Regions from separate parts of the Homo sapiens genome. Here regions 1, 2, 4 and 5 are each reported to be linked to region 3. Evidence: microRNA targets listed by miRTarBase, many of them from high-throughput screens and not tested one by one. Region 3 holds a microRNA gene; each other region holds the end of a gene's coding sequence.

The links. Region 3 holds the annotated microRNA hsa-miR-22-3p (AAGCUGCCAGUUGAAGAACUGU, at 1,441-1,462, opposite strand). A microRNA usually pairs through its seed, bases 2 to 8, with sites in the 3' UTR of a target mRNA and lowers its output. Matches are read on the target gene's strand: a 7mer-m8 pairs with bases 2 to 8, a 7mer-A1 pairs with bases 2 to 7 and ends in A, and an 8mer does both.
Region 1: miRTarBase lists BMP6 as a target of hsa-miR-22-3p. The part of its 3' UTR that is shown has no 7-base or 8-base seed match.
Region 2: miRTarBase lists CLPTM1L as a target of hsa-miR-22-3p. The part of its 3' UTR that is shown has no 7-base or 8-base seed match.
Region 4: the mRNA of ARID5B is a reported target of hsa-miR-22-3p. The part of its 3' UTR that is shown has no 7-base or 8-base seed match.
Region 5: the mRNA of SPG11 is a reported target of hsa-miR-22-3p. The part of its 3' UTR that is shown has no 7-base or 8-base seed match.

What each region holds. Positions count from the first base shown.
Region 1 is chr6:7,879,368-7,884,469 of GRCh38, reverse strand. BMP6 (bone morphogenetic protein 6) reads right to left here. Exons shown (of 7, transcript NM_001718.6): 6 at 4,369-4,479; 7 at 2,742-4,276. The coding sequence ends at 4,127. TXNDC5 (thioredoxin domain containing 5) reads left to right here. Exons shown (of 10, transcript NM_030810.5): 9 at 1-111; 10 at 1,204-2,953. The coding sequence ends at 1,326. It overlaps BLOC1S5-TXNDC5 (BLOC1S5-TXNDC5 readthrough (NMD candidate)), which reads left to right. Exons shown (of 13, transcript NR_037616.1): 12 at 1-111; 13 at 1,204-3,220. Among named protein-coding and RNA genes, the nearest start is that of TXNDC5, 29 kb to the left of the region's middle. RefSeq lists an enhancer at 1,205-2,404.
Region 2 is chr5:1,313,634-1,318,735 of GRCh38, reverse strand. CLPTM1L (CLPTM1 like) reads left to right here. Exons shown (of 17, transcript NM_030782.5): 17 at 283-984. The coding sequence ends at 367. Among named protein-coding and RNA genes, the nearest start is that of MIR4457, 6.8 kb to the right of the region's middle. RefSeq lists enhancers at 1,991-2,140, 2,431-2,820.
Region 3 is chr17:1,712,474-1,717,575 of GRCh38, forward strand. MIR22 (microRNA 22) reads right to left here and starts at 1,514; the gene lies at 1,430-1,514. MIR22HG (MIR22 host gene) reads right to left here and starts at 3,737. Exons shown (of 3, transcript NR_028505.2): 1 at 3,657-3,737; 2 at 1,230-1,541. It also overlaps a transcript of WDR81 not described here. RefSeq lists an enhancer at 3,884-4,525.
Region 4 is chr10:62,092,630-62,097,714 of GRCh38, forward strand. ARID5B (AT-rich interaction domain 5B) reads left to right here. Exons shown (of 10, transcript NM_032199.3): 10 at 1-4,315. The coding sequence ends at 401. Among named protein-coding and RNA genes, the nearest start is that of LINC02621, 160 kb to the right of the region's middle.
Region 5 is chr15:44,558,330-44,563,426 of GRCh38, forward strand. It overlaps SPG11 (SPG11 vesicle trafficking associated, spatacsin), which reads right to left. Exons shown (of 40, transcript NM_025137.4): 40 at 4,367-4,972. The coding sequence ends at 4,792. It overlaps EIF3J (eukaryotic translation initiation factor 3 subunit J), which reads left to right. Exons shown (of 8, transcript NM_003758.4): 7 at 1,920-1,993; 8 at 2,689-4,474. The coding sequence ends at 2,820. Among named protein-coding and RNA genes, the nearest start is that of EIF3J, 24 kb to the left of the region's middle.

The DNA of each region.
Region 1 (5,102 bases), not on the chromosome of region 3:
CTGGCTCCTACTTGGGAGGAACTCTCTAAAAAGGAATTCCCTGGTCTGGCGGGGGTCAAGATCGCCGAAGTAGACTGCACTGCTGAACGGAATATCTGCAGCAAGTATTCGGTGGGTACTTGGATGGATGCTTATGGGAGCTCTCAGTATGGGGGCAGATCCCAAGGGAACTGTGCCTCAACCACGATAACTCACTCTGCTCTCATCTTCTCAACAATGTGGTTTTTATGTCCCTTTGAGTTGTTTGTTTGGAGAAGCAAAAGAGATCCTCTCTCAAAGGGAAGGCATTCTTCTTCGCCCGCTTTGTAGTTAGTATCCATGTTTCAGTGCAGGTTTTCAGGCCTTGCTGTCTGAGTAACAAGGCCGTGAAGTAACAGACCCCACGCCATAGACTGTGGGGCTTCCCACACCGCGACTCTTGATGATTGACCAGTGGTCTGTAGCCTTTGCCATAAATACCCGAGTCGCTCATTTTTCACACATAAGCCAGCATTATAAAATGCAGTGGCTGAATCTAAGAATCATTTCAACATAACCTCCTTTCTGAAAGGGCCATGCCAGCAAGTCGGTCCTGTGCTTGGGTTAACTACTGCCTTCATTCCAAGCTGTTAGCACAGTCTGATGGCCTGGAAGATTTGTCATTTTTTTTCTTCTTTGTTATTCAGACACTTTTGGAGCCCTTTAGATGGAGAATAGACGTAACCCAGACATAGTTTCCTTATCATTAAAAGATACCAGTTGTTTTTTGTGCCCTAAAATTCTTAGAAACGAGTTGCCACTGAAACATGTATCCTCAAGAGGATCTTGCTCTCATGGTCTGGTCTGCAGACCACCAGGGCATCGCCAGGGAGGTCATTGGAAATGCAGACTCCCAGGCCTGCTCAATCCAAATCTGCACCTTCAGCAGATCCGCAGGTGATCGTGTGCACAGTAAAGACTGAAAGCGTCTGCTTTAGGGTAAAGTCGTTCCTTTGAGGCTGATCTTTAATGATGTCATTTTGAATTCAGAAGTGAACACACAGCCCCACGGCTGTGCTTTCTAAACAGTAGTCTGCTCCTGTTTTAATGGAATATACACCTTTAAAAATTAGCCACAGAATTTTTCCAGCCACAACGGTAGGAGTGTATCTGGTTTTATTTAGGAAGCAATTTGCATGTGATCTGGACCGCTGGTTTGCAAACTTTTTTCTTTTTTGTTTTAAGGTACGAGGCTACCCCACGTTATTGCTTTTCCGAGGAGGGAAGAAAGTCAGTGAGCACAGTGGAGGCAGAGACCTTGACTCGTTACACCGCTTTGTCCTGAGCCAAGCGAAAGACGAACTTTAGGAACACAGTTGGAGGTCACCTCTCCTGCCCAGCTCCCGCACCCTGCGTTTAGGAGTTCAGTCCCACAGAGGCCACTGGGTTCCCAGTGGTGGCTGTTCAGAAAGCAGAACATACTAAGCGTGAGGTATCTTCTTTGTGTGTGTGTTTTCCAAGCCAACACACTCTACAGATTCTTTATTAAGTTAAGTTTCTCTAAGTAAATGTGTAACTCATGGTCACTGTGTAAACATTTTCAGTGGCGATATATCCCCTTTGACCTTCTCTTGATGAAATTTACATGGTTTCCTTTGAGACTAAAATAGCGTTGAGGGAAATGAAATTGCTGGACTATTTGTGGCTCCTGAGTTGAGTGATTTTGGTGAAAGAAAGCACATCCAAAGCATAGTTTACCTGCCCACGAGTTCTGGAAAGGTGGCCTTGTGGCAGTATTGACGTTCCTCTGATCTTAAGGTCACAGTTGACTCAATACTGTGTTGGTCCGTAGCATGGAGCAGATTGAAATGCAAAAACCCACACCTCTGGAAGATACCTTCACGGCCGCTGCTGGAGCTTCTGTTGCTGTGAATACTTCTCTCAGTGTGAGAGGTTAGCCGTGATGAAAGCAGCGTTACTTCTGACCGTGCCTGAGTAAGAGAATGCTGATGCCATAACTTTATGTGTCGATACTTGTCAAATCAGTTACTGTTCAGGGGATCCTTCTGTTTCTCACGGGGTGAAACATGTCTTTAGTTCCTCATGTTAACACGAAGCCAGAGCCCACATGAACTGTTGGATGTCTTCCTTAGAAAGGGTAGGCATGGAAAATTCCACGAGGCTCATTCTCAGTATCTCATTAACTCATTGAAAGATTCCAGTTGTATTTGTCACCTGGGGTGACAAGACCAGACAGGCTTTCCCAGGCCTGGGTATCCAGGGAGGCTCTGCAGCCCTGCTGAAGGGCCCTAACTAGAGTTCTAGAGTTTCTGATTCTGTTTCTCAGTAGTCCTTTTAGAGGCTTGCTATACTTGGTCTGCTTCAAGGAGGTCGACCTTCTAATGTATGAAGAATGGGATGCATTTGATCTCAAGACCAAAGACAGATGTCAGTGGGCTGCTCTGGCCCTGGTGTGCACGGCTGTGGCAGCTGTTGATGCCAGTGTCCTCTAACTCATGCTGTCCTTGTGATTAAACACCTCTATCTCCCTTGGGAATAAGCACATACAGGCTTAAGCTCTAAGATAGATAGGTGTTTGTCCTTTTACCATCGAGCTACTTCCCATAATAACCACTTTGCATCCAACACTCTTCACCCACCTCCCATACGCAAGGGGATGTGGATACTTGGCCCAAAGTAACTGGTGGTAGGAATCTTAGAAACAAGACCACTTATACTGTCTGTCTGAGGCAGAAGATAACAGCAGCATCTCGACCAGCCTCTGCCTTAAAGGAAATCTTTATTAATCACGTATGGTTCACAGATAATTCTTTTTTTAAAAAAACCCAACCTCCTAGAGAAGCACAACTGTCAAGAGTCTTGTACACACAACTTCAGCTTTGCATCACGAGTCTTGTATTCCAAGAAAATCAAAGTGGTACAATTTGTTTGTTTACACTATGATACTTTCTAAATAAACTCTTTTTTTTTAAAAGTCTGGTCTTTCCTTCAATGTTACAGCAAAACAGATATAAAATAGACAATAAATTATAGTTTATATTTACAAAAAAAGCTGTAAGTGCAAACAGTTGTAGATTATAAATGTATTATTTAATCAGTTTAGTATGAAATTGCCTTCCCAGTACATGATTGTGAAAAAGACATTTAGAAAATATTCTAAAATTTAATCTGAGCCTCACTTTCTACAAGGGAAATCATGATTTCCGTTCATAAACAGCATGCTCATCCCCCTAACACCATTCTTATAAGCTGGGCACCCTCATTTTATTTTCTTCGTTGGTTCTAACCCTGTGGCGTGGTATGCTGTATAGTAAAAAGGCAGAGAACCACTTTACTGAAAAGGTACTAGAGCCGGCAGTCCAGAAGTTAATGTGCTGGTCAAAGAACCGTTCTGGTAAAGAAGAGGTGAGCATTGCCTTCACGTGTTACACGGTTACACACCCCTTGTAGCCTCACCTCAGTGTAATCAGTCTACTTTTGGTACTAGCAAAGAGTACAGCAAATGGAGGATTGAGGTGTAGAAATGGTATGTTTTGGCTGAAATAAGTGTATTTTCACACCAACAAAACTCCAGCACGAACATACAACAGCAATGACTGAGACAAGGGCGCCCCGTGGAGCCCTGGCTGTGGCCTGGGCTGTGCGTCCTGTGGACTTCTGGGAATGAACTGAACAGAGGCGTTCCCCCCACTTCCCCGATTTCTGTTCTCTGTAAAATCTACCTTTGATAGACAGTACTGAACCAGCTGATCCTTTAGCCAAGAATACATTTAACTCCTTTGAGATTATTTTCCCTATTTACTAACAAACACCCCAAATAGCTTGATCTACAGCTAAAACTAATTTTGGTGGGTTTTTGGGGGAGGAGGGTAGGAAGAGCTTCACGGTTATGTTTCTGCAGTTACCAGACCTTATGCTACAGACATCCAAACTCAGCTTGCTACAGACCAACAACTACTCACGTCATTTACCAAGTGAGCAAATTATTAATGAGGTCCTTTAAAATCTTCCTGGGTAATAAGGCACTGGCATGAGATAGTTTCAAAGTCTCATCGTCCCACCTCCAACTGTGCTTCCGTGTTTTTTTAAGGCAGATGTAATCTAGGAATCCAAGGCAGAATGTGTGTCCCCAGCATCTGGTTTCGAGTTAGTGGCATCCACAAGCTCTTACAACCATATTCCTGTATTTTTTCAGAATGACATTGGAGTTGTCATCAAAGTAAAGAACCGAGATGGCATTTAGCTTAGTTGGCGCACAGCACGGTTTGGGGACATACTCGGGGTTCATAAGGTGAACCTGTTCCAAAACAGAAGGGGAGAAGGTACCTTAGAAATGACACCTGGTCTTGGCTTACTCCCACTTACAAAACAAAGTCTCCGAGAGCTCACCAAGGTCTGCACAATCGCGTGGTTGGTTGCATTCATGTGTGCGTTGAGTGGGAAGGAGCATTCTCCATCACAGTAATTGGCAGCATAGCCCTTGGGTGCAATGATCCAGTCCTTAATTTCATGCAAAGGAAGCAACAAAAGATGAGCATGCACTTCTCACACTATTTGTGCTTTTCAGGAATGCTGTGAAAAGGTATTTTTCACATTGCACAGGCAAGGATACAGACGCAGGAAGGCTTAGGAATTTGTCCAAGTTCACATTCAAGTGGCAATGCTGGGAAGTGAACCTGGTCCATCTGACCCCAGAACCCTCGCTCCTTGCAGAGGCCCACAGGGCCTCAGCTGCTACCTGGAAGCACGTAGGTTGCCAGCAATATGTGCTTGGACCCAAGCAAGCCTCTCCAGGAGCCCACGGTGCTCCTGCGGAAGTAGTGCCACCTGCATATGGAAGCTACCTTTTATCGCTCACCACCTGTGATTAAAGTTGCTGCCTTTCTTACAAACTAGTGATGGTTCTCAGGTACGAGGCAAACGTGTGCTCTTCTGCATCGTTTGGTGAGCTGGTTTGCAGCCATTGGAGATGTTAACCATTAGGTAATTTTTTTCCAACCCTGTCTCAATTAAAATTTGTTTAAATGCCCAAATAAATGTATGTCCTATGGGCTTTGAAAGGATGAGGTGAGAATATTGGGAAATGTGGCTATTGATTTTTGAGGGATCACAGAGCTCAGGCA
Region 2 (5,102 bases), not on the chromosome of region 3:
TCCCCCCTTCAGCCATGGCAGCCCGTGCAGCCTCCGGGTCGTCCCTTCGGCCAAGCTTCCCTTTCCTTGAGAGCAGCACGCTGGCCTGGCCATGCAGAACAAAACACAACTCAGAAATCCCTCCTCAGCCCTCGGCAGTAAAACTTCTGAGGATTCGACTTTTTAGTTAATTTGCTCACTGTGGCAGCTCACTGGAAAATAAATCGAGGATGCCAAGTCCTCCTCTTAGAAAAATAGCCCCTGCAGTGGGGTTTGCTGATGTGCTCATTTGTGTCATTGCAGGCTTTATCCTGTGGATAAACGCAGAGTGAACGAGTTTGGGGAGTCCTACGAGGAGAAGGCCACGCGGGCGCCCCACACGGACTGAAGGCCGCCCGGGCTGCCGCCAGCCAAGTGCAACTTGAATTGTCAATGAGTATTTTTGGAAGCATTTGGAGGAATTCCTAGACATTGCGTTTTCTGTGTTGCCAAAATCCCTTCGGACATTTCTCAGACATCTCCCAAGTTCCCATCACGTCAGATTTGGAGCTGGTAGCGCTTACGATGCCCCCACGTGTGAACATCTGTCTTGGTCACAGAGCTGGGTGCTGCCGGTCACCTTGAGCTGTGGTGGCTCCCGGCACACGAGTGTCCGGGGTTCGGCCATGTCCTCACGCGGGCAGGGGTGGGAGCCCTCACAGGCAAGGGGGCTGTTGGATTTCCATTTCAGGTGGTTTTCTAAGTGCTCCTTATGTGAATTTCAAACACGTATGGAATTCATTCCGCATGGACTCTGGGATCAAAGGCTCTTTCCTCTTTTGTTTGAGAGTTGGTTGTTTTAAAGCTTAATGTATGTTTCTATTTTAAAATAAATTTTTCTGGCTGTGGCATTTTTCTTGACCTGGTATAATGAAAGTATTTCGGATATTTGAGTTTAACCCTTTTCCAGAAAGTAATACATGATATGGATTTATTTATGCATTAAAAGAGCAAATTTAAAGAGCCCTTTGCAAGCCTTTGAGTCATGAGTGTTCTTAGATACGTAGCATCTTAGTTGTTTAAGACTAAACTATTGTACAGAGCCATGACCCATCAGGTCAAGCTTATCTTGCCCTAGGTTGAGGCAGAGAGAGAGAAATGGAATAGAAAGATGGGTGGAGAACTGCTGGACTCGGTGTGTAGTGAAGTTTAATGTTTGTTGAAGTTAGTTTTTGTGGGGTTTGTTGTTCTCAGCTCACAGCAGCCTCCACCTCCCATGTTCACACAATCTTCTTGCCTCAGCCTCCTGAGTAGCTGCGACTACAAGTGTGCACCACCACATCCAGCTTTTTTGTATTAATATTTTTAGTAGAGATGTGGTTTTGCCATGTTGTCCAGGCTGGTCTCGAACTCCTGATCTCAAGTGATCACCCGCCTTGGCCTTTTGAAGTGCTGGGAGTACAGGCATGAGCCACCACACCTGGCCTCTAAATATATAATCTTTTTTTATTCCTGGTCATTTCCTTGCTCTAAGTCTCCTTTGCCAATAACAGCTTTCATCCTCTTGTGTTTCTGGAACAGGCTCCCCTCTCATGGGCCTGGCTTCCTTGCAGCTGAGGGGCTTTGGGAGCCCTGCTCAGAGCCCCAAGCCTGCAGGCCTGTTCCATGTGTCTCCACGTAAATGGACGAGACACACCATTCCAGGATGCTCATTCAGGCTGAGAACCAAATCCAGATGCTCTCAGTCCATTCGCAGATGACAGTGAAGTTTCTGTACACTCTGCTTTCTTCTGGATCAGATAAATCTTTTATAATTAAGGTGTTGTAAACTTCACTCGATTTGAGAGGAATGCACTGGGGCTTCAAGTTGTCATCTTTCAGTTTTATTCATTAAAATACGAAGATACCAGATGAGTTGGCACAGGAAAACAAATACGAATACACGGCCTGTACTGTGTTACTTAGTCGTGTGTTGTAAGTGGGGTCTGGAAGGGTGGCTGGGAGAGCGGGTGAACTGCCGGTTCCAGATGGGACGCACAGCACCTTAAGGGGCCTGGGGGGGCACACGGGAGGCGGCTCCAGAGGCAGGGCAGATAGTGGGGGCCCGCAGGCAAGTCAGCAGTGGGGGAAAGACAGCAGAAGGCGTGAGGGTCTTCATTGGTGTATGTGAAGGTCACGAGGTCACACGGCCCTGCCCATCACAGGTGCGTCGGTCTGCGGGGAAGTTGAGGCATCAGGGAACAGGAAGTTTTAAACGTTTACAATGGATCTTACCCACACAGGCCGTGCCTTTGCCTGCGGTGTCAGATTACTAGGGCGGGGTGCGGTGGAGGGTGTCCCTTCCACACCTGTGGTTTTATTTGTCTTTGGGGGAGGGGAGCCTTGCTTTATAAAACACAACTGGCTGTGTTCTGTAAGGCTTCACCCAGCACATCCTGTTGGCAGCAGCTAAGCACACAAACGGGAAAGGAGTATCGCCCAACTCCACCGATGAACTCAAAGTGCCTGGCTTTGCCTGGGGGATGCTGGCAAGGTTAGGTGCGGTTCCCAGCGTTTCTTCTGCCTCCTGGGGCACATCCCGCGGTGGGTCAGCGCCTGCGGCCGGCTGCTGCAGAAATAGCGTCATTCGGCCCCTGCATCAGCAGCCAAAGCCGGGCCTAACTGTCAGGAGCTCCGTGGATAGCTTTGCTGCTCTCGCTTTTCAGTTTCAGTATCAAAAATAGTTGCTACAAGAACTGATTTTTGTCATAGCACCTGCTCTTCCATTTGGGCTGGCGTGCTGAGCAAAGGTGGGTGCAGGCGCCTCATCAGCCTGACAGCAGAGTCAGCTTAACCTGAGTTTTCAGGAAGCACCGTGGCAGGCCCCCAAAAGGGGCAGATGTCCACCGTGCACTGCGTCTGCTTCTGCAGTCGGCCCTCCAGTGCCGTTTTCTTTCACCTGCAAAGGGCCTTAATGCGTGAACCAGCTGCTGGTGACTGTTAGTCTTGCTCTGTTTAAACAGTAGCAAGTTGCAGAGTGTTCCTTTGAAGACACCGCAAGTCACGTGTGTCAGTTACTCCTGAGAGGTTTCTGGGGCGCCTGCCTCTCCTTTCTTTAAGATGAGCAGAGGTTTAAAAAAAAATGAGTTTGGGGAATGAGCCTTGAAAGTCCTTCCAGCTTCAGGACCGGCACTTGCTCTGACAGTCTGACTTCTGCCCTGTGGGCCGGCGCTCCTGCAAATGGGCAGTGTTTCAAGAGAGGACTGAGCCTCATGCAGATCCATCTCATGGGAACCCTGAAGCTTCACTGACCAACAGAGGCTCCACCTGGGCGACTTGAAACATGCTTAAAGGGTTTATCTGTCATTCATCCCGATGAGTTTAGTTCTGTTTTCCTCTTGGATTTCATTGATATTTCTGCATACCATCAAAGCCCTGTCTTATGATTGATCATGAGGTGGGACTTAGAAATGCGCTAAGTACCTGTGGATTTTAGACTGTGTCAAAGCCCTCGAAGCTGAAACAGAGGACTGACAAGGTGAGGGCCCGGGGTCCCCCACGGTGGAACTGCAGTGTCCTGATCGCAGCTGGTGGGCTCCGTACCTGGGCAGGATGGGCTCTACTGGAGCAGCCAGTGTCCAGAAGGAGCTTCTGTCTCTACCCCTTGGCACTGGCCACTCATTTTATAGAAGAGATTTTCTTTAGACCAGAGTTTATTAGAAAGCCAAGGAAAATGAGAACACGTCCCCCTGTGAAGTACCTGCCACACATAGCCCTGTTGAAGCCAGTTTGGTGGCTGTTGGGTCTTTGGCAACGAGATCAGTCTGTTGGCCTCGGCCCCGGTAAGCCCCACAGGCCAGGGGTCTGGAGGAAGGATGGGGTGCAGCCTGCGATAGGTGAGGCTACGGAACCCTGACGAAGCAGGGGCTGTGTTCGAGGAGTGATCCATGCGGAGGAGGGAAACCAGGAGGAGGTCTTGGCGTATACCACACTGCTTACCCCTTTCCTGAAGCAGGCACAGGACCCAAGGGGGTGTGGCGCCCTGTGGCCCACCATGCTTTCAGAGCAGCAGCCTCTGCAGAGACACTGGTCCCAGAAAAGCCACCGCCTGAGTGTCCCCCAGCCACGGCCACCATCCCCACAGCTTTCATGCTTCAAGCAGCATATTTGTTCTCTGATGGTTCTGGAGGCCAGGAGTCCAGACCAGACCTCCCTGCGCGGCCACTGGGGTGTGGGCAGGCCCTGCCCTCCAGGGGCTCCAGGTGCTCCGTTCCTCGTGCTCTCCACCTCGAGAGCTGTGCTCCTTGCATTCCCGGGCTTGTGGCCTTCTTCGCCTCACCCTAACCTTTGCCTCCGTGGTCATATCCCTGATTCTCACCCCGACCCTCTGTGGTTACATCAGTCCCAGACGATTACCCAGCATCATCTCCCATCCAAGATCCAAGTGTGATGGTGGCCACCGAGTCCACTCTGGCACGTGGGATCACATCCGCGGTTCTGGGGCTGAACCGGGATGTCTGGGGGGACATGCCCACCTCCCCCTCATCCTGCCATTTCCCTTGTTGAACCTTCAGTGTGATGTCCCAGTGGCTTCTGTCCTGCTGGCTGGACTCAGCTGGTGCACTGAGAGGCAGACACTTTTTTTTTTTTTTTTTTTTTGAGACGGAGTCTCGTTCTGTCACCCAGGCTGGCACTGCAACCTCTGCCACCCGGGTTCAAGCGATTCTCCTGCCTCAGCCTCTCGAGTAGCTGGGGTTACAGACATCTGCCACCACGCCCGGCTCATTTTTGTATTTTTAGTAGAGATGGGGTTTCACTATGTTGCCAGGCTGGTATTGAACTCCTGACCTCACGTGATCTGCCCGCCTTGGCCTCCCAACGTGCTGGGATTACAGGCATGAGTTGCTGCACCAGGCCGGCAGGCACTTTTAAAAAACTTGTTGCTATACAATTTCCACACAGTGTCATGGCAGATGCACCCCGTGCAGCTCAACAAGCCCTGCATGCTTCCAGACTCCAGCACCAAGCACCCGAGTCAGGCTACAGACAGACCCCGGCCCCACGGGGCCCTCTCAGTGGAAACCAGGCGGGTGAACCCAGCCCATGGGTCACCGGGTCCAAGTCCCACACATGAACAGTCATGCTGGGAGCTCTGGTACCCAGGT
Region 3 (5,102 bases):
TCTTGGGGTGCTCCTGGCCTTTAGGGGCTCCTCTGCTGGATGCCCAGGTAGGACCCTGTGCTCTCCAGGCCTGGTCCTTCACTGGTCTCCATATTCCCAGGCTGCCTCTCCTCACCTCTGCTCCATGATGGGTGAAGATGGCAGAGGCACATAGCGAGGGCTGGAGGGAGATGCTGTGGCCAGTGAAGCAAGGAGAAAGTACGGAGGCAGTGTCCAGGGACAGAGTCACCTTTGTTGCAGCCTATGAGTCTATCCCCTGCTTCTCTACCACTGTCCCACACGCATCCTGCCCCTCAGCTTGGCTGCAGAAGAGCAGGGTTCCACGGTCTACTCTTCTCCACATCCTTGAGTTTTTCACAAGCGGAGGACAAGATACAGCTCCCTGCACATCTCCTCCCACCAAATCGAACAGACACAGCTTCCTGTAGCCGCTAGGTGAGAATGGATCAGGGCTGGAGGTGGCAGGTTTACACTCACTGCCTGATATCTGGAAGGAGGTCACATCCCACAACCCACCTCCCCTACTTGCTGCAGGGGAGAATTTCCTGTCTGCACAGGCCTGAGCTGGGGATCACATACCACCTTGGAAAGCAAAGTGAGGAAAGAAACAGAGTAGCAGCAGTTAGAATCCCACCAAGGGGCTGCTGTCCTGCTTTGGATATCAGGGGAAGCCTTGGGCCACCCTTGCATGGGGGGAAGTCACGGAGAGGCGAGCTCTTACTAGCTCCTCGCATTGGTCTAACTCTAACCCCCTCCTCCAGCTTCCCATTCCCCACCCAGCTTCTGGGTGATGGTATCAGGGATGGGGGAGGGACAACAGCTTCTGTGAAAAGGTGTTTTGTTTCCACCCACAGCAGGGGGAGAGCCCGGGTTCTGAGTCAACCCAGATGGGCTTCTGATTCCCTCATGCACACTCATCTGTGTGACTGCCCATCTCACAGGTGGAGAAACTGAGACAGGAGGTCTAAGGGTCTCAGATACAGGTAAGTGCCCAGGAATCTAGAGTCTGGGCCAGCCTAAGGAAATGCAGGGAAAAGTAAGAGCAGAAGGATGACTCCTCACGCCTGGGTTTAGTATCACTTTTCCCTGAAGAGTGAGCTTACTTTTGGACCTCATCTGGAAAGGCCAGTGGGGAAGAATGAAAGATACGGAAGGAGGGTCAAGAAGGAAGTCGGGGAGACAGAGTGTTCTCTCCACTTCTTCCCACTGTCACACAAAGACCAACTAACCTTGGGTTGTTTGAGCCTTCTACTCCTCAATCCAGCCAGTGTCTCTAATCTAAAACCGCTCCTTGCTGGGCCAATCTGGGCAAAGGCTCTCCAACTTGCCCAAAACGTATCATCCACCCTGCTGTTCGGACCTTCCCAGCCCATTTCTGTCACCTTCCAGATGATGGGGAAAGCAGCTCCTCCTCCTCCTCGAAGCCAGGGGCAGAGGGCAACAGTTCTTCAACTGGCAGCTTTAGCTGGGTCAGGACATAAAGCTTGCCACTGAAGAACTACTGCGGCTCAGCCAGGTGAGGGCGTGAGAGGAACAGGCTCCTAAGGGAAAGGGAGGGAAAATGGGAAAGATCTGAGCAGGGCATGTTGCTGCAACGCTGACCCACTCGCTGGCCATCAGGGTCCTGCCCCAGTAGACCTCTGAGATTCTAATGCAGGGCTGCAGCTCTGATCTGGGCCCGCGGAAGCTGTTAACCTCGCTGAGCAGCAAGAGGTGGCTGTAAACAGACTTCCCTTGCTCTTCTTTCCAGAACTGGAGTCTAGAGAAACCCAGTCCTGCTCTCACCCTCCCCTGCCCTAGCGGCCCCTGGGGGCCCAGCCTCCTCAGCATTCAGACAGGGTGGGGCCCGGGACCCTGGACACACCCCACCAGCACGCAGGTACTAGAAGTGTGGTACCTCAGGTCCAGAAATGTGAGTTCAGTGATCAGCCCAACTGACTTGTTCCCAGGGAGTTCAGCTGGAAGGAGAGTTCTGGGGGCCTGGATTGGGGAAGAGTGAGGAAGGGAGGAGGCCTAGCGTTTGAAAGAAGGTCAGCAGAGGCCCCCGGGGCTGTGAGGGGCGGACAGGGGACCACAGGCTGGAGAGGAGGGAGGTATCGGCAGGGTGGCCGGGGCTGTGAGGGGCGGGCAGGGGACCACAGGCTGGAGGGGAGGGAGGTATGGGCAGGGTGGCTGGGCAGCTTCCCCAGGACTCTCAGATGCCAGGCATTCCGCTTGCGCATTCCGGGTACATCTGGTATGAATTCCAGGCTGTCTGCCGGCCCCTCCATGTCTGAACTTTGTTCCAAGTTCCAAGCCCCGCCCCCACAGTTCCAACGCATGAATCAGCAGGAAAAGCCGGGCCCTGCAGCATGGCCCAGGGAGGGGGCTGGGGGCGTGGCAGGCTCGGGGGATGTGAGCTGGGGAGGGCGGGTCCGTGCTGACACTCAGTCCAAGGGCATGGCCCACGCCAGGCTGAGGGGCCAAGGCGGTCTTGCCTTGGAATTTCTATACTCAGAGGGTAAGAAAGATTGGGGGATACGGGGTGCGGTTCAAATTCCGAAACCCTCTTGGGAGGCATGAACTTTGTGTATCTTCCTTCCCCTGGGTGACCAGTCCAACTCCGTCCGACCTTCCTCTGTCTGAGATAGCTCTGTTCAACCCAGAGGACTCAGCAGCTGCTGAGAGTCTGTGCCAAGCAGGTGCCCTTGGCTGCAGGGCGGGGTGGGCCCAGGGCACTGACCCTCTGACCAGCTGCTCCATCAACCCTCTGGCACTCTGACAGCTCCTAGCCCAATCTGACAGCCAGGATGACAGGCCAAAGGAGTTGGAGGCTGGAACCAGGGCCGGAGGGAGGTGGGGGTGACAGCCTCGCCGGAGGCCATGGGGAGGGGCCAAGAGTTGGCCGAGAGGTGGGGAGAGAGGCAGCCCAGTGATGACTAACCCAGGCGCCCCACCCAGCCAGCCGGCTTCCCAGGCAGTCAGGGCCAGGCCTGGGCTAGGGGCCTCACAATCGGACAGGCTGGGGGGAGGTGCAGAGGTGACCTTCTCTCGGCCCAAGACGGCCAGTTAGTCTGGGGAGCGGGGGTTAGAGTTTCCAGGCCCTCCTCTTGCCCTCTTCCCCCCGCCCAACCACGGTGAAACCCTAACCTTTGGGTTGCATAAGGCCCCGGCACCGCCGCCCCCTACTCCTCTCCCCTCCCCCCTTACATAACATCCCCTGGAGAGAACGAGAGGAGGGGCCGGCCCGCCCAGCGACCCCTTCCCTGCCAGGGCGCTGAACTGGCCCTGACCCAGTGAACGCCGGCAGAGGCAAAGCACCTCCTCGCCGCCCGCTCGGGGGGTCCAGACCCTCCCCAGGCTAGATGGCCGGCCCCTGTATCCTCAGACCGGGGGCCGCCGGGTGAGCCGCCCCCGGCCCTCCGGCCCCTCGGCTCTCCCCCCGCCCCCCGCCACTCCGCCAGCCCTTCCGCCACGACTCCCGTCCCAGACTCTTTCCTCGTAGCTCCTGACACACTAACCCGGCCAGTCCAGGCCCCTCTCCCCGAGGCGCCCCTGCCCCCGCCGCCCCTTCTCCTCCCGGAAGGGCTGGGTGTGGCCGCCCGGACCCCACTTTCACCCTCCATCCCGTTACCGCGGCTCCCCGCTGCGTGACCGGGTCGCCAGCTCACACCCACCTGGTGCTGGGTGTGGGGGTTGCTGCACGAGGGGGAGCAAATCACTGCGTCCGCTCCCCACGGCCGGCGGCGCTGTCTCTTCTCGGCACCCAGCACACACCGGCTCCAGGCTCCGATCAGCTGGCGGCGTCGTGACGCACGAGCTGCGAATGCACGGCCCGGGGCCAATCACCGCCCACTGCTGGGCAACGTGGCCCCGCCCACCCGGGGGCCGACGGGGCCTCGCCCTGGTCCCGCCTCTCCGGGCGCCCTGGCTCTGATTGGCAAGGAGGCCACCCTTTTGCCGGGCGGAATTGCACGAAGCCACGCCCACCCACTGAGGAGCCGGCCAATAGACGGACAGGTGTGGCCCAGCCCTCCGCGTCAGCGACCCGCTTAGAAAAGCGCTACGTCAAACGAGAGTCCTAAAGAGCAGGCGAAAGCCACGGCGTCTGCGTTTGCAATGCATGCTGGTCCGTGTAGTTCTCAGCCTGACACCGTCGTTCCCAGAACCCAGCGCGCTCTGTGAGTTGGCATTTTTAAACTGAGCTCGGAATCCAGCCCGGGGAAGTCCTTAAAGGGCGACAGCCCCTCCTTGTTGGAGTCGTGAGTGCTTCTTTTAGACATTCCCCAAACTGACTCGCCGGCCTCTGCGGGACGCTATAGCTCTTTAAGGAAAGGTGGAGCGGACCAAGGAGCAGGAGTGGGCAGAGCGTCAGCCCCCAGGGCAGCAGAGACTGCCGTTGGAGAGCTCTCCAGGGTTTTTGGAGGAGGGAGGGTGCTCGCCTCGCCCAGCCCACTCCTCCTGGGGGCTCTTCCTAACCACAGGAGGCTTTTTTTCTTGGATGTCTCTTCCCAGTCCCAGAAGAGCCCCCAGAGCCTCCCAAGAGGTAGCTTTCTAACAAAAGATTCATAGCACAGTCCTCACCTTAGGGTAGAGGGAGGGCTTCTGGTCAGAAATTAGGGGATGGGCCATGCCAAAGTGCAAAGGGTCAGCAATCGCATCCTCTGATTAACCCCCATTCAGTCCCGCCCTCCAAAGCTCTTCACTGACTCAGGCCTACTTAGGGAAGAGATTCGAAGGTGGAGACCAATGAGCAGGCTGCTCCTTCCCCAGGGGCCAATCAGAGTCTAGATGAGCGGGGGATGGGCAAAAAGTGAAATGAACCCAGTGACTTGGCAAAAGCTGCTGGTCGGCGTTTTTAAAGGGGCAAGCCGGAGACCTGCCCTACCTTATCAATCCCCGCAAGTCCCCCAAAGAGGAACATGTGGACTGAAATCCATGCCTTTTCCTTCAGCTCCAAATAGGGGCTGAGGGTAACTAAGCAGGAATGATGAGGCTGGAGGGTGAGATCCTTCCTTCTGTTAAATACGCACTCCATCAGGTAATTGATAAGGTTCACTTGGAGCTCCAAAATTCTGAGCCTGCGTTCAGGACATTGCGCCTTTAAGGAAACTTCCTGCCTT
Region 4 (5,085 bases), not on the chromosome of region 3:
CAGCGCACGGTGGGCATTCCGGGGGCGGATCAGAAGGCCACAAGCTTCCCCTCTCCTCCCCTATCTTCCCAGGTCTGTATTCCGGGAGCCTGTGTAACTCGGGCCTCAACTCCAGGCTCCCGGCTGGGTATTCTCATTCTCTGCAGTACTTGAAAAACCAGACTGTGCTTTCTCCACTCATGCAGCCCCTGGCTTTCCACTCGCTTGTGATGCAAAGAGGAATTTTTACATCACCGACAAATTCTCAGCAGCTGTACAGACACTTGGCTGCGGCTACACCTGTAGGAAGTTCATATGGGGACCTTTTGCATAACAGCATTTACCCTTTAGCTGCTATAAATCCTCAAGCTGCCTTTCCATCTTCCCAGCTGTCATCCGTGCACCCCAGTACAAAACTGTAGGCTCAGCTCTGCCCAGCAGTCCAAAGCGGCATGGCCAACAGAGCTTCACTCCTTACCCAGGAGTGCTGGCTTATAGAGTTAGAAGTCAGTATTTCTTCTAATCTGAGGCTATGATCAGTCCCAGCTGTAGGGGCCCAGAGGGGAGGTGAACATGCCTGATTTTTGTGGGACAACTCTAGCCCACAAACTGACTGGCTGGTGAGTCTTGACTCCCTTCCAACACAGATGCCCAGGCACCTCCAGATCATTCACTTCGCACGTGGGCCTTGTGAAGGGATTTGTGAATATCCAGGAAGAACTTAGAGGACCCCATCTGAGTTCGGATGGTCAGGAAACAATCTGGGCAAAAAAGAGGCAGGCATTTCAAAGGAAGGGGCAAGGAAGACTGGCAAACAGATGGCAAGGGATGCCCCTCTTTTTCATAAAACTCTCCAAGGTTCAATCAATGCAATGTATAGTGAAACTTCAATAGATCTTTCATTTTGACACTATTAAACAATCCAGAGAAGTAAACACTGTTAAATTGACTGTATATATTTGCTTCTTAAAACTACCTGTATCACTGTTTGCTCACCTAATTTATATACAGGTAGTTCCATTTTCTCCCAGTTCCTTCTCGTCTTTTTTTTTTTTTTTTTTTTTTTTTTTATTAAATGGTATTGCTTTTGTTTGCAGGTCTTTTTGTTTTTGTTTTGTTTTTGAGGCTGACTGACTGTCCTAGTTGTTGTGTGTTTGTAATTTTTCCACATCTTATTTTGAGCAGCTTTGGGTGGTAAAGTTATTGTTTACAAATTGAAGCAACTGATTCTAGTGGAACAAATGAAAAAGAAACAGTCAAGCACACAATAGTGCAAAGAACGTTCCTTTGTAGATCCGCAACTTAAGGATTTTGTTCCTCATAAATGGCATAGTTGAAAGAGCTTATACACTGCTTACCCAGCCAAATGCTTTGCTTTGAAGTATTGGGTTCTGTGAAAATATTGAGCATTGTACTTACCTTATCTAGGCTGTGAAACTGTCCTACATACCAGAGAATCATAAAAACAAAAACCTCACTGGCAGCAAGCTGCCGAATAACAACAGAGTCTAGAGGACATATTTGTGGGCTGCACAGATATTTTAGGAATTTCAGAAATTAGAACAGGAGCCAAAATGATTTACATTGGCGTTGGCACTGATTCCTTTAAATGGTCTGGGAAAGGGGGTTGGGAAGAGGATGGAGCTCAACTGGCCAGAAGAGGAGCAGCTGCAGTCCTGATAGCTTCTCTAGCCTCGGTCTTTTGAGTGATAAGTAGTCATGTTGTTTTCATCCAGTTGGTTTCTTGTCATTCCCAAGAAGAATCTCCCAGGCCACATCTTTGGGGATAACTGACATACTGGATTAGCCTTTTCAAAAGAAAAGTCATCCTATTTGGTTTTATGGGGTGTGAGTTTTGTGTGTACACACACAGAAACATGTAAGGTGGTTTGGGTCATGTTTTTAACCACCTGGCAATACAGTCCACTTTCTGGTTTCTTTTATTGTGGGAAGTAAATGGTCAAGCTGCTCAGGCAGTGAAAAGATGTGGAGAATGTCCGTTGTCATTCTTGCCACTGTATTCCATTTGCTACCGAGATATAACATTAAGGTGGACACATTTTCTAACTGTATTAATTAAAAGTCAATGGATACAGAGAGTGGATTTTCTCCCCAAGTCCCATCCCTGCTGAAGACCGCTTGGATGAACTCCCCAACCCACTGTGCCCCTCCCGCAACACTACCAGTAGACTTTAGAACCATAGTTAACTAAGTCTTTTACCTCTGAGATACTTAATTCTGGGAAAATTGGTGACAATTTTCAACTTCTAAATAGGTAACTCGACTGCAAAATAATCAAAACTGATAACAATGAAACTGCGGCTCTTAAACAAAGCCATGCATGCCGTGCATTTGTATTGAAATGTCTCCATGATATGAAGCCAAATATTCAATGTAACATACTTAATATCCAAAGGTGGAAACAAAAGAATGTAGAGATCCAGTGTTAAGAGTTCCATTTGCTTCAATTAATTATTTACCTTCCTGTGGAATAATATATATATATATATTTAATAGAACCATAGATAGACTAGTAGAATTTAGATTATAAATGTGTGAGTGCAGATTATCCTGCTATTGCACAAGCTAGAGGGGGGAAAAATCTCAATTCCAGCTGGCAAGATGCTAGCCAGGACACATATAAGAAAGTTGCACTAGATTGAATGGTCACAGAATCGGAGGACATGGAAGAAAAAGGAAACTTCGGTGGTTCTGCAGCAGACATGGGCTAGGTCATATGTGGTTTCTATGAGTTCGTGTCTCAAAAAAAAAAGGAGGGGGGGCATCTGTCCCCGGTGGAGCTCACCTATTTGGAATATGGGGCATTTGTTTTTTCCACTGCAATGATTTCAGTCTGGTTTCATCATGTTGGAATTCGATCACACCATTTTCAAACAATGTTAACATAGTCCAGCTTTTGTTTTTCTCATCTCTTCTGAGAGGAGACTCACTGTTTCTGTCTGAGGAAGCTCATACCCTCGGCAAAACATCAGGACAAATAAAGAGAAATGGGGGTACGCATTCCCAACAGAAGCAGTGTGTTATTTGTTTTAAAACTCTGAACAGAGATCTTGGAAATCTTTCAAAAAGACCATTGAATTCTTCATTGGCTGAGAACGACGTTTTAAAATGTCTTAAATAAGGCTTTGTTTGCATTGTTTGAGTTCAAGGGGCCTTATTATTGAATGGAATTGCACAAGCCTTTCTTTGTGCAATCAAACCATTGTTATTGGTAGTTCTGTAAAGGAAACTGTGGAATCGAATTGGCAGTGGAGTCATAAATCTATTTACTGAGTGTGGCTTCCAAGAAATGTTGCAATTCAAAATGCACTAAGTCTGTGATTTATTGGAGATTTGGAGATTCTAAATAATATTTTTAAAAAACTTCCATGCAACTTCTGGTTTAATGTTTGGCAACTCCACATGATAAAAAAATAAAAACAGCCCAACCGAGTTTCGGAATTAAGTATTCTTCTAGTAAGTGATTCAAACTTGTAATATTTGCCACAGGACTGACTTATTTATTTACTAGCTAGAAGCTCTTAAGTTCACTTGTTTATCAGGGCATATACAGAAGGGTTTGTTAAAACTCGATGTTAACTTTACAACTTTCTGACCTGGTGCATGAATTCTCAAGTACTGTATTTCACTGTGTTGGTGTGTCTGATGGAAATTTCGAGGTGGTCCCACAAAAATATTTTATGTAGTGTGCCTTCAAAGAGAACCATTTATTTCTCTTCACTTATCGTCCCACAAAGTCACATTTGGTGGTGGTCAGCCAAGTCGCATCTGGTCTAGTTTTACTCTTGTCCCAATTTTAAAGAGAAATGGGAATGAGTTTGCCCTGGTGAGACCCATACCATTGCAATGATTATCTTGAGCACTTAAAGTCCAGTGTTGGCTGTTAGTGTATTTGATATTCTGCCTGTCTCCTCATGGTTGAAATATGTCTGAAGAATAGCAGCATAATCTCTTGGCTGTTTATACTTTTTTAAACTTTCCTGTGTTGTAAATATTGTATACTTTTGGTGATTCCAGCTATGTAACCTCTATGCTCTGTAAGGTGATTATTTGTATATAGCAACATGGCCCAGTGATATTATATAGTTTCCCAATGGAGAGGTTATTGAGTAACCTTTGCATTAGTTTAAACACTACCAGAAGAATGCTGAGCCAACTATAAACACTCAATTTTGTATGTTTTCCAAATTGTACTTATTACTGCTTTTGATACTGTATTACGTGCCAATAGTTTCCCAATCACATAGCAGGCAAGAGATATTTTGTACTTTTTGATCCACTGTAATATTTAATAAAAAATGTTACTATCTGTTTCCTTTTGGGTGTGAGTAATCTGTCACTCTTCCTGAGGAGCCTGTGGCCTCCCCAGAAGACTTTCCACCCCATCTGTCCAAATTGAATGATAACAGTAATGATGGCAATGTCTGTAATTCACTAAGGACCTAGTGGGTGCCCATTTGGCAAATACCTCTTATCTTCACAACCTTATGTAAATATGGTTATACCTATTTTACTTATGAGAAAACTAAAGCTTAGAGAGGTAAATCAACTGGTCCAAGATCACCCAACAGATGGCAGAGTCAGGATTTGAAGCCAGGGCTCTCATCTATGTACTTCCTTTGTATACCATCCTCCTCCGCTGGTAGGATAATCAGAAAAGTTATTTATTTATTTATTTGTTTGTTTGTTTGTTTATTTATTTTGAGACAGAGTCTCACTCGGTCGCCCAGGCTGAGTGCAGTGGTGCGACCTCAACTCACTGCAACCTCCGCCTCCCAGGTTCAAGCGATTCTCCTGCCTCAGCCTCCTGAGTAGCTGGGATTACAGGTGCGTGCCACCACGCCCAGCTAATTTTTTAATTTTTAGTAGAGACGGGGTTTCACCATGTTGGTCACGCTAGTCTTGAACTACTGACCTCAGGATCCACCCGCCTCAGCCTCCCAAAGTGCTGGGATTACAGGCATGAGCCACTGTACCAGGCCAAGTTATTGTTTTTTATTCAGTCAACAAAGATTTACTCATGCCCCAATTGCCAGGCATAGTATTAGGAGCTGGGAATACAATGGTAAATAAAATATAAAATAT
Region 5 (5,097 bases), not on the chromosome of region 3:
GCAGTGGCTCATGCCTGTAATCCCAGCACTTTGGGAGGCCAAAACAGGCGGATCACGAGGTCAGGAGATTGTAGACCATCCTGGCTAACAAGGTGAAGCTGAGGCAGGAGAATGGCATGAACCTGGGAGGCAAAGCTTGCAGTGAGCTGAGATCGTGCCACCGCACTCCAGCCTGGGTGACCAAGTGAGACTCCGTCTCAAAAAAAAAAAAGCAATTCTCCTGCTCAGACTCCTGAGTAGCTGGGATTACAGGCGCCTGCCACCACGCCCGGCTAATTTTTTGTATTTTTAGTAGAGACGGGGTTTCACCATGTTGGCCAGGCTGCTCTGGAACTCCTGATCTCAGGTGATCTCCCTGCCTTGGCCTCCCAAAGTACTGGGATTATAGGTGTGAGCCACCACGCCCAGCCTATTTGCAGTTTTTAAGATGGAGAAAAAGGAATCCTACACAATGAATTGGGTTTTCTTTGATAAATTATCACTAAGCTGAGGGTTCTACATTTGATTGGTAATGTGCCCAGAGTTGATATTTTATTCTGCATGTACTAATTTTTTTCTGGTTTTTGGAGGTGTTCTCTAACCAAAACTGAACACTTTCTGGTAGCTAAAAACTGGTGTCTCTTTCCAGCTTCATATTTTTATAAGGCTGATAATGCTGTCCACTGAACAGGACTATTTCTTGGTAGGACATAGAGATGGTCACTGTTCTCATTGTAGTTCCCGTGCAAGAAAATGGAGACATCATGGGATAGGGTGTTGTCATTGTAGGTTTAAGAATTGTCATTCTGGCCGGGCGTGGTGGCTCATGCCTGTAATCCCAGCACTTTGGGAGGCTGAGGCTGGTAGATCACCTGAGGTCAGGAGTTTGAGACTAACCTTGCCAACATGGTAAAACCTCATCTCTATTAAAAAAAAAAAAAAAAAACACAAAAATCAGCTGGGCATGGTGGCACGCACCTGTAATCCCAGCTACTCGGGAGGCTGAGGCAGGACAATCACTTGAATCTGGGAGGTGGAGGCTGTGGTGAGCCGAGATCACGCCACTGTACCCCAGCCTGGTGACAAAGCGAGACTCTGTCTCAAAAAAAAAAATAAAATAGGCCGGGTGCGGTGGCTCACACCTGTAACCCCAGCACTTTGGGAGGCCGAGGCAGGCGGATCACGTCAGGAGATCAAGAGCATCCTGGCTAACACAGTGAAACCCCGTCTCTACTAAAAATACAAAAAATTAGCTGGGCATGGTGGCGGGCGCCTGTAGTCCCAGCTACTCGGGAGGCTGAGGCAGGAAAATGGTGTGAACCCGGGAGGCGCAGGTTGCAGTGAGCCGAGATCGCGTCACTGCACTCCAACCTGGGTGACAGAGTGAGACTCCATCTCAAAAAAAAAAAAAAATAATAGTAATTGTCATTTCATGTTTATTTGTCTGTTCTCCCTGATTACTGGGGGTGTGTTAATGGAAGGGCATGTTATCCTCCCCCATTTGTTTAGACTGAGGAAGGATAGTAGGGAGCATTGTGAGCTATAAAGACAGTTTCTCTTTGGTTGAGCAATGGTGTGTTGGTGATTACAGGTCGTCATTATAAATAAAATGAATTTTGTTTTCAAGAGACAGGGTCTAGCTGTGTTGCCCAAGCTGGTCTCGAATTCCTGGGCTTAAGTGATCCACCCACCTAGGCCTCCCAAAATGCTGGGATTACAGGCATGTGCCACTGTGCCCGGCCACCTTACGTTTAAAGAGGAGAAATTCATGGTCCTTTCAAAGTTACTGAAGTTTAACAATGAACAAATTGGATTTCTCATAACACTTTTGGAATGTACATTTTGGGATATATAGATATATATGGAATGTACATATTTAGCTTTAACTTTTCAAAATGCTTAAAAATTCAAGTTTAATGGTATGCCCTTTTTTTTTTAAGTGGAAATTGATGACTTGAAAAAAATTACCAATTCACTGACTGTGCTTTGCAGTGAAAAACAGAAGCAAGAAAAGGTAAGAGCAAGCTGTGTAGGGAAATGGGTATTAAATTAGAGTGGGGTTATAGGTCTAACAGTCAACAAATATAATAGGAGCCTGTCCTAATTAAAAGTCAAGCAACTCACTAATACCATTTAAGTTAGACTAGAAGAGGAGTATGGGTGCTATTACTGTCCTTTTGTTTCCAGACATGTTCCCCTTTTCTGAGTTAATAGAAATTGCTGAAATCACAGACTGGGTTCAAATACTAGCACTGCTACTTAATAGGTATAGGTAAATCAGCTTTTCTAAGCTTCAGTCTTCTCCCTTCTAAAATAGGAACAATAATACTCACTTTGCAGAGTATTTATAAGAGTAAAGTAAGAGAAGTATGTCAAGTAAAGGTTAGAGCTTTGTGATTTTAAATTGGGGGGTACTTATCCACACTTTTCTAAATTTGCTTCAGTGAAGTTAAGGCTGTCTACCAATAACTTATAACCCCTGCTGGTGGGCTAGGTATCCAGAGCAGGACCAAGGACCCAGATCAAGTTTTGGAGAGACTGACTCTGGGAGACCTGTTCAGGTCCAAAACATGTAGGCTCGGATGTCCCTTACAGAACTAGTGTTTCTGGGACCAAAGGTTTTTGTGTGTTTGTTTATGAGGGTTGCTGTACCAGATAAGATGCCCATAGCACACTAAGGTTCATGAATTAACTCTCTTTCATCTTTAGCAAAGCAAAGCCAAAAAGAAGAAGAAAGGTGTGGTTCCTGGAGGGGGATTAAAAGCCACCATGAAAGATGATCTGGCAGATTATGGTGGTTATGATGGAGGATATGTACAAGACTATGAAGACTTCATGTGACATTTTATCTTTTCTTGGTGTCATCTTTATGTTGCCCACAATCCCTTGAACATGTAGCACAACTTCCTTTCCTTTCAGTTCTGCCAAATGCTACAATCAGAAGTGCAGTATCTTTTGTGCTGGTTATTTAACCCCTTGACACTTAGGTGCTAATGTGCAAATGAGGGAACTTGGATCTTGCTGCCAAGGGGTTAAAATTGGGAACCTAAGTTGCTACTAAATCATAGTTCAAAACCTAATAATGTTGTCGTTGTTGCTATCTGATTTCATAGCAGCAGTCACTAAATTGGAAACAAAAGGTTGCAACGTGACAAAAAAAATTGTGTAGTATTTACCAGCACCATTCAGTAATACAGCCTTAACCATACCTCCTTGAACTACTTCATAACTTGTCAAGAAAAGCAGTTTGCAGCAAGGGCATGTGGTGTGCACCTAGTATTAAAATTGCTTTGTCTTAAAATTGAACATGAGGATATTAAAAATACATTGTGAAGAAGACTGCTTATCTCAGAGTGAAGATACTGCGGCTGAAAAGCACTAGTTTGATATAAAATTAAAATGACCAAAACCCTCCAACTTTGAAGCTAAAGAAGGTAAACCTTTCCATTATTGCATTACATGTTGTGGAATCTCTCGAGTGCAAAGACTGTCTAGTTATTTATCAGGCTATTTCTACTGATGAACTGCTTCAGGTGGGGGAGGGAAACTTATTTTTATTTGCCTGATTTAAGTGTCTGAGAAACAAATCTTTGTTCTCTTAGGCTGCAATGGAACAACTTTACCAGGGTTTTGGCATTTCCTTTCCTTTCCTTTATAAAACATGCTCAGCAAACTGCACCAGTTAACTACAGTTTGGTAAATTGTTATGTTAACAATTATGACATCTGCAATGTTTTATAAAGCAACTAATTTAATAAAATCACTGTTGTGAGGACTTAAATTTTGTGTTACCTCCCAAGAGATACTTTTTGAGAGTATAGAACACAGCTCTTGGGAGTACAGTTCTCTACGTTCTCTACTAAATCTTAATAAATGCTTGACATAGTTACAGCTTTAAAACATGAGTGATTTGCCAGGTCCTTATGTTGTCACCATAGAGCAACAAAGGTATAGGGCTGCCTTCCTCTTATTTATTTGGGGACATTATTTTGTTATTTAGATACCAAGGCCTAATTAATTAAGTACCTATAAGAACTATTTATTTGGAGTAACTGAGCCTGTAACTCAGGTTTATGGCTGTTAAGTATAGATTGGGGAATCTTTATTATGTCTTCTCCTAAGCAGTTTAACCAAATGTGTGGTTAGTGTTTTTTTATTCCCCTAAGACAGAAAGAACAAAAAATGTTTTAAATTTCTCTTATATAGGAAATAATAGGAACGTCAAAGCTCTGTATACCTACTAAGTGGAAAACAAGACCATCATCTAAGTGATTTGAGAAATTAACAAAAGTAGTGACTACACAGCAATAATTACAGTAAATTAAATAAAGATTCCTTTAAGGCAGACAAGGGCTAAGATTTCCTTAGCAGTAATAATGACATACACTGAATTGAAAATCTATTTTATTACAGAAAGATCAGTTTCTAACAAATGAAAATGTATCACCTGTTCCTTAACTGTGTAAATAATAATTAAATTTCTTTGAAACTGGAATCTGCAGGTACAGGTATTCTTTAATCATTATTGGATCATCTAAAGTAGAAGCTGTCCTGAGGAAGAGGAAGCTTTTGATCTTAATACTAGTATCTATATAAAATGGTGTGGATGAACAATCATCTAAAATCAATCTATTTTAAATAGGAATTTCCTCCTGAAAAGTTTCTTACTTGCTACCTACTACCCACAAAGGACTGATATGGTACAGTACCGGGATTGTTCAACTTTAGCAAAGATCTCCAATGCATTCTTCTTCTCATCACATCTGTCAGAATCTGCTAACAGTACAAGAAAACAGACACCTATGAAATCATCTAACCTGCTAGCATGTCCTTTAGACAGCAACCTGTCTGAGGGTCCTTCAGAAGCACATTTACAATTTCATAAAACTTGTGTTCGTATGCCAACTTGTAATACAGGTAAACATCTTCACAATATGTGAGTAATTTCTTCAGGTTTTCCATGACCATGTCAGTAGGCTGATGTTGTTTATATCTAGATAAAGAAACATAATGTACAGGTTAAGATACTGTTTTTTGTTTTGTTTTGTTTGAGACAGTCTTACTCTGTTGCCCAGGCTGGAGTGCAGAGGAGCAGTCTTGGCTCACTGCAACCTCCAC